Homo sapiens: one gene and its partner. The protein of the gene in region 1 interacts with the protein of each later gene in a biochemical or structural test. Each region holds a gene or a part of one and is shown in the gene's direction. Other genes may lie near its edges. The genes, in order: S100Z and SLC8A1.

Region 1 (4,501 bases):
TCCCAGCACTCTGGGAAGCCAGGCTGGGAGGATCACTTGAGCCCAGGAGTTCAAGACTAGACTGGGCAAGCAACATGGTGAAACCCCATCTCTACAAAAAAATACAAGTATTAGCCAGGTTGTGGTGGCATACCCTGCAGTCCTAGCTATTTGGGAGGCTGAAGTGGGAGGATCACTTGAGCCTGGGAGGTTGAGGTTGCAGAGAGCTGTGATTGTGTCTCTGTACTCTACCCTAGGCAATGGAGCAAGACTCTGTCTCCAAAAAAAAAAAAAAAAAATTTATCTTTGAATTCTTTCTTTCAATATATTGTTATCTGTATTTCTGTACTGAGTGCTGTGCTTCTTGACCTGTCTCTGCCCTTTTCTGTGTATTTATTTATTTAATTGACAAGTAAAAATTGTATATATTATGGTATACAAATACAGCTTGATGTTTTAATTTATGTATACATTGTGGAATTATTAAGTCAAGCTATTTGACTTAATTGCCCCATATACTTGTCATTTTTTGGGGGTGATAAAGACACTTAACATCTACTGTCTTAGCAATTTTCGATACACGATATATTGTTATTAACTATAGATAGCATGCTGTACAATGGGAGCTCTTAAACTTATTCCTCCTGGGCCAGGCGCAGTGTCTCACGCCTATAATCCCAGCACATTGGGAGGCCAAGGTGGGCGGATCACTTGAGGTCAGGAATTCAAGACCAGCCTCACCAACATGGTGAAACCCCATCTCTACTGAAAATACAAAAATTAGCCAGGCTTAGTGGTGGGCGCTTGTAATCTCAGCTACTTGGGAGGCTGAGGCAGAAGCTTGAACCAGGGAGGTGGAGGTTGCAGTGAGCTGAGATGATGCCACTGCACTCCAGCCTGGGTGACAGAGCAAGACTCTGTCTCAAAAAAAAAAAAGAAAAAAAGAAATGCTGTGAGGAATTATTAGCCATGAAGCTTCAGCAGGCAGGTTAGGTAGCTTTTCCAGTCACATACTGGTGAAGTAAGGATTTGAACCCCAAGACTCTGGTGCCAGAGTAATTGCTCTTCACCATGAGGAGGCACCAGTGGGGGAGTGTTGGATCACAAGCAGTTTCTTTTTCTTTTTTTTTTGTTTTTTTGAGACGGAATCTGGCTCTGTCACCTAGTCTGGAGGGCAGCGGCGAGCTCAGCTCACTACAACCTCTGCCTCTCAGGTTCAAGCGTTCTCCTGCTTCAGCCTCACGAGTAGCTGGAATTACAGGCGCCCGCCACCATGCCTGGCTAATTTTTATATTTTTAGTAGAGATGGGGTTTCGCCACGTTGACCAGGCTGGTCTCAAACTCCTGACCGCAAGTGATCCACCCACCTCAGCCTCTCAAAGTGCTGGGATTAGAGGCATGAGCCACTGCACCCAGCGCAATTTCGTTAGAGACTTGGTGCCTTCCCATTTCTTTTACTCAGCAATATACCAGCTTTAGGTCCTAAATTAAACCTCTTCCTGCTTTCCCACCTGATGAAGAAACGTGCCTGCAGTGTGGTGAGTCTGGACCACGCAGACTCAGAACAGCACTACTCACAGCAGGGCCTCTTGCTCGCTCTAGCTGCTGGGAGGAAAACGGCTTGCTAATCTCCACGCCCAGAAATTCAGACAAGAGCATTCTCCTTATCTCATCTGCACAGGAAGCAGGTCTAAGGTAAAAGATTATTTTTGTGGAAGATTCTTGCTTTTCAGTCTAGTGGTTGAAGTGTGAGCCTGGCAGGCGTTGGATTAGAGAGGGCAACAAGAGTGGAGGTTGTGAGGTGGGGGGTTGCCTTGGGGCTTCCACTCTAAAATGTGGCCTTACCTTGGCCACAAAGGGGTCGGGGGGGTGGGGGAGAGAGAGAGAGAGAGAGAGAGGGAGAGAGCAGCCTGATCATAGCTCGGAGCGTAGAGGTTCTGGTAAGTTCCTTGCCCTAAAGAACACTTAGTTCATTCTGGCTCCTTTCCTGGTGACCATCCTGGCTTCCTGCTTGGCCTTCACCTCACCTTGAGAAATTCAAGTTTCATGTTCTTGTCCAGGCCAAAGACCCAGAAGAACCTTCAAGGTGAGGCTTGGCCCCTTAGATCCACGCCGTGATTTCGCTTCTTTTTCCTGAAGCCTGCACAGATGCCAGTGTAAGCCCACTCCCAGGAAGTCACAGCAGTGGTCTATGCTCCTCCTCTTCACACTGGCCAGTGCTGGGCATGCCTGGACAATCAGCCCTGGAATGGCTGCTCTCAGCCTACAGAAGAAGAGAGGGAAGAGGGATGGAGGGGCTGGGGAGAAGTTGGTGAGAGGACACAAAATTTGGGTTAGACAGAGAAATAAAGTTTTTTTTGTTTTTTGTTTTTTTCTGAGATGGAGTTTCACTCTGTCACCCAGGCTGGAGTGCAGTGGTGTGATCTCAGCTCACTGCAACCTCCACCTCCCACTTGGCTTCCCAAAGTGCTGCGATTACAGGCATGAGCCACCGCTCCCCAGCCTCCTCATGGGATTTTTGAGGATGACATAAAGGAATACATTTAAACTGCCTAGAAGGGTGCTTGGCCCAGAGTATGTGCTAATTAACGTTGGCTACTATTATTTTCCTTCAACCCAGTGCCGGTGCAGGTCTAGAGGAAAGCATGAGGTGATACAGGGGCACCCAGAGGCGGAGTGCTCCCAGGAGCTGAGGGGCATCGGAGGCTTCCCTGGAGGACTGGCACCTGAGCAGAGGAATGGGCAGCACAGTGGCAGTGCCACGTGTGCGGCACAGATGGTGCAGAGGGGATGGGTGGGCACACTGCGGGGAGTTTAGATTTAGCCAGGGGATGGCAGGGCCTGTCCAGGAGGTTAAGTGAGGAGCTCAGGTGTGCCTCCCAGCAGGCAGGGGAGGCTAATTTTGAAGAAGAGCAAAGTAGGTGCAGGAGGTGAGTTGGGATCTCATGCAGTAATTCAGGCCAGAAGTGACAAGGGCCTGAACTATGGCGCTAGGGTTGAGGAGGAAGGAACAGAGAGTGAGGAGATACAACCTGGCAACTGATTGCATGAGAGAGAGAGAGGGGCCAGGAATAGCATCATACTCAGGTTTCTGGCCATGCAGTTGGGTGAATGAGGGTATTGCTGTTGACTGGAGCAGCAAAAAAAGGGGATCCCCTCTGGGGTAGAGGAAGAAGGGAGCAGGGGATTGGAAAATGCCAAAATCAGTTTGCTGTGGTTTGGAATCTGAGACTCTGATGTGTTACCTAAGTGGAGATGTCCTGTGGTCAGTTTATTTATACTCTCCTGGGTCCTAGGTAGGATTTAAGGTGACATATGAAGATAACACAAAGTAGAGTAAGATATTATAAATTAAGTAGGAGAGAAAGCAGACAGAAAAGAACGAGATGTAAAGTAGAGGAAGGAATGAGGTTAAATATAAAGTACACAGCAGAAAGCAGAAGTCACAAGCTGGCCAGCATTCGCTGAATTTCCTGTTTGAGTTGTCCTGCAGTCTTATGTTTGTCTGTTGGGTTTTGGTGGGTTTTGTTTGTTTGTCTTGAGTTGCAGTCTTAAAATCCAGGAATTCTTAAAAATTAAAATTTCTCACTTTTTCTTTTAAAAAAAAAAAAAGTGAAGTTCTGGGAGCTCTGAGCCATATCCCATCTGGCAACGATGATCTGGGTCTGAGAAGCAGTCTCGCCTTCTTGGGAGAGCACGGGCTCTCCAATTTCCCACTGGCCTCCACTCCACTTGGCTGTCTGGCACTGAAGCAGTGTCGGTCCTCTTATCAGCATGGACTATTTCTCTGAACTCACCCTTCTATCAAATGTAATAAAAAAAATTAGTCAAGATATTTTTTTTTTCTTAGTCTCAATTTTGCCTGTTTACACTAGCAGCCTGGCCGTGGAAGCAGGCTGATGCTCCCTGTTCACAACTGCTTTTCATTCTGCTTAGTGCCTCTGTTGTATCTGTTGTTAAATAGTTTGGGCTGGGTGTAATGGCTCACACCTGTAACCCCAGTACTTTGGGAAGCTGAGGTGGGTGGATTGCTTGAGGCCAAAGTTTGAGAATAGCCTGGCCAACATGGTGAAAACCCATCTCTACTAAAATACAAAAAAATAGCCAGGAATGGTGGTGCACACCTGTAATCCCAGCTACTCAGGAGGCTAAGGCACAAGAATTGCTTAAACCCAGGAGGCGGAGGTTGCAGTGAGCTGAGATCCCGCTACTGCACTGCACTCCAGCCTGGGTGACAGAGTGAGACTCTGTCTCAAAAAACAAACAAACAAACAAAAAACAGCAAAGTTTGAACATGACCCGGCTGTAGGTATTTGAGTTTGCAGCATGTGGTAAAATCAAGTATTCGGCCTAGGTGGCTCATGAACTTGATTCTAGGCTTTCTAGCAGCCAAAGAAAAAGAGGATACATTATCTGTCTTATCCTATCTTATCAGCTGGGCTATTCATAGTATCCATGGGATGACTGCTTAGGCAAGTCAGGACTCTTCTCAACACAAGAACCAGAGCAACATTTTTCCCCT
Region 2 (3,816 bases), on another chromosome or scaffold:
GAGATGCTCTTAAATGTGAAATCTGAAGCAAAGATTGCATTTTTGCAAAGCTATCCAGAAGATGTGTTAATTATTGAGACATGGGATTCATTAACACATCAGCGCCCAACCACTGCCTCTCCTGCCCCCATTCACACATTATCCACAATCAAATAAGCAGCTAAGCAGGGGAAACCTATCACTGTTAATGTCATAATCACATCACCACTGAATTACCAGATGTGGTCAGGAACTAGGCAAAGTAGGTGGGACCAATCCTAGGACTGGGGCCATACCACAACCTCAGCTCAGCCCCTTGTCGGATACGGTTTCTGAATTTAGTACAATGCCAGAAGTATTTTTTTTCTTTCAGCTGTGAACCAGCCTGTTTTGTTTGACAAGCCTTTCCAGATTCATGCAGCTCAATCACGTGCTTGTTGCCAGTTTGAGAGTGAACCTATTATTTCAAACTTGTTGCCGTGACCAATTTTTACAAAACTGAAAGTAGCACTGTGAGGTGGATTGGACCTAGTGATGAGGTGTCTACACTTGCATCCTTTTCTTCCAAGAGAATATTCTGACACTCCAACTCTAGAAGTCATGTCATTAGTAAAATGAAAATAATAATTGCTTAATCACTGTTTAGAATTAGTTCATACTTCTTCAGAGCTTGAAGCCTCCACGACTCAACATCAGATCCATGGATAGTATTACTATACCTTTACCCAAAGACTGGATTTATTTTGTAAAAATATCAGAATGGGTCTGGGTCCCTTTAAAGCAACTGACAAGGTATTTAACAACATTTTAAAACAATGAAGAAAGGATGATTCTGCAGAGGCTGCTGGGTTACAGAGGAGGGCAGAGCTTTTGTCAGACTCTCTTGATGTTTTGCTCTTCCTGGTAAGTTTTTATCTATCATGGTTCCCAGTGGAATATTCTCCATACACATTCTGTGGGAGGATATTGACATGGCTCTAGACTCTGCCTTTTATTTTCTAATTCTCCTTGGAGAATTAGAACAGGCATTCCAGAACTTGTAATATAGAGGGGAAGAAAGAAAAAATGGCAGATGCCTCATTGATGGATCCACAAGTTTTGTACAAAAGCACACACCATTCTGATTGTCTCTATATTAACATTGTACTCACCAAACAGCTTTCTAAAGGTGACTGGAACAAGATAAATATCAACTGGATAATTACCTAAGGAAAAAGAATAAAAAAGAAATCAAACCAAAAAAAAAGCAAAAAATTGGTCAGTTTAGCAAGCGTGTTTTCCAGGATCATAGGCTCATAAACTATACAGTCAAGAGAGTGAAACAATTTTAAAATCAAAAGTTAGAGCCTTTTATATTTCTTCAGATGTACAATTTCATAAATCAAGCATTTATTTTGTGCAAAGTATTATATTAGGTACCCTAAATGGTATATAAAGAATTCAAAACAGAGTAATTTAAGAAAATTAACACTAGTCTTTGATTTAGTCAGGAAGAGTCCACTTATGGCATTCTAATTAAATTAACCTTCCATTTTGGTCTACATTTTATCAATTTGAGATTGCTTAATGGGGCCATTTTGAAACCTATCAAGAAACTTTCCTCTAACAGAAATAGAAATATTAATTTTCTTAATTTCACATTCTGTCTTCCACTAATAAGATAAATGGATTCAGACCCAACACACACATCCAGAGATTACCATGAGCCAAGACCTGTGTAAGTTTGATATAGGGTCTTTTATTCAACATTTCAAGTTGGGAAAATCTTATTACAAAGATCATTTGCCTCACCATTGCTGAATTCTTTTACTAGGTGTTGATGCTAATTCATCACTGGATTTTCTTAACTCTGCCTGTTGCTCTTTTGGACTTTGAGGCATGTGGTTCTATTTCAGTGAGTTACAACTCCAGCTCTCATCTTTTAACAGCAAACTAGAGAACATCTCACTCTTCATCTCTGAGGACACAGTGTTCTCTTCATTTTAACATCAAAAAGTCACCAGAGAGAAGACCCAAAGGCTTTTCTCTTTGGAAAAGGAATCTTTAATTGTTTCAGAGGGTGAGGAATCTTCAGCTCTCTCTGGACTTGATTGTCCTCATCATTAAATGGGAAGACTTTACCTTTAGCTTGATTTTCCAGAACACATCAAGCCCCGTATGGTCAGTGTTTCCCTGTTATCATCCACTTATGTGTATGGGTTGAAGGTACTTTAAGTTGTGAGCCAGCTGCTGCCCATATTGGGTCACCAATGCACTTGTCAAGCCCATGTAACCACATGAAGTTTGATAGAAATATAAACATTTATTTTGAAATAATTCCATGTGCACGGTTGGAAAAACAGTCTCCCTTCCCTGAGAGGAATGAGTAATTTCTCCCTTTTCAAGAAGTGTACAGTAGAAAATGTAATGAGATTGGAATGGATTCCAAATCAGTGACCTTTTTAAGGCTGAAACCACTATTTTAAATGAAAACTTTAAGTTCATACAGTTTCTTATAGTAATTCTACTTTTATTTTTTAGTCAGTGTGCTTAATCTTTTAGGAAAAAAAACTAACCAGTTATTTTTTACTAAAGTATGTGAATTACAAACAGGATGTGCAATGACCAGGCAGAAAGATATTTAAAGGTGTAATTATTCTAAAGGAAGATGAGAAAAAATTCATCTGCTACAGATTCAACTGTCTTTTAAATGCCTCCCTTGTCATGGAGTAAATGACTACTCAAAAGGATTTCACAAAAGACTTAAATCTCACCCTTAGCAATCAACCGGTCGGCCACAGCTCAGATGCCTCATTAGCAAAATGAAATTGCACAACAGACGAAACATAGCAAAAGAATGTAGACATTTCCATGGGGTGGAAGAAAAGAAGAAAGAAAAAGCAACCATAGTGAACTCTGCTTGCATAAACAAAGAATGTTTTAGTGGAATAAATGTAAGCTTTCTCTTGAAGGAATCCCAGTTAGAATGTCATTGGAAACGGCAAAACTATTTCAGCTTCATAGCAGTAATATATTCCAACTTTATTACCACTGAGGCACAAAGCTAAATTTGTCAGGGGGAAAGGTAAGCAAAAATTACTGACATTGCAACCGATAAAATGATCTTGTGAGACTCAATATTGAGAAAGAAAATTAAAATAGCTAATATTTCTGTTATAATTCCAGTGATTACTAAGACTTCTGCCAAGGGATAAAATTACTTTTCCTTCTCTCATTATAAATTTCTATATAGAGCTATTTTAATGCAGTAAGGACTGTATTTTCATATTTTAATAAATCCCTCACGTTGAATTTGCCCCCCATTTCAGATTTGATTAGGAAATACTAAATTGAGAAGGCAGGTTTTTCCATCTTTTTAAAAACAAGTATGCACCATAAGCATTTTCAGCGGATGTCTGCCTTAAGCAATCTTGGTAGAGCTGTCAATCAGTGGCAGGTGCTTGTTTAAGGAAGAGAACCTGTGAATAGATTTAGCCTTTCTTCCTCACAGACAGCTGCTCATTCACACACGCTCATCTCGTCTTCCTCAACTTCTTGCACCAATCCCGCCTCTTGGATTGACCCACATCCACCTAGCAGTTGAACAAACTGCAGATTCTAATTACATGTCCCGACAGTTGCTCAACTTAATTTTTCACCAACTGAATTTCATGCATTGCCCCTTGATGTTCCTTCCCTCTGTTCACTCTTTTCTATAAGTCCTTGCATTTGATATACTTTAAAATGGATTTGACTAGGAAAAAAAAAAAAACCAAGTCAGCAAACCCTTGTGTTCATTCAAGAAATTGTGAACAAATTTAGCTGTTATGGTAATAATCCTGAGGTGAGAGAGAAAAT

What was found.
Region 2: the proteins of S100Z (region 1) and SLC8A1 interact in a biophysical measurement, tested with the Homo sapiens proteins (one large-scale study listed by IntAct).

What each region holds. Positions count from the first base shown.
Region 1 is NC_000005.10:76,848,482-76,852,982, forward strand, and holds the start of S100Z (protein S100-Z), read left to right. Parts: upstream 1-1,532; 5' UTR 1,533-1,674; intron 1,675-4,501.
Region 2 is NC_000002.12:40,102,277-40,106,092, reverse strand, and holds part of SLC8A1 (sodium/calcium exchanger 1 isoform A precursor), read left to right. Parts: 3' UTR 1-3,816. UniProt on the Homo sapiens protein: Mediates the exchange of one Ca(2+) ion against three to four Na(+) ions across the cell membrane, and thereby contributes to the regulation of cytoplasmic Ca(2+) levels and Ca(2+)-dependent cellular processes.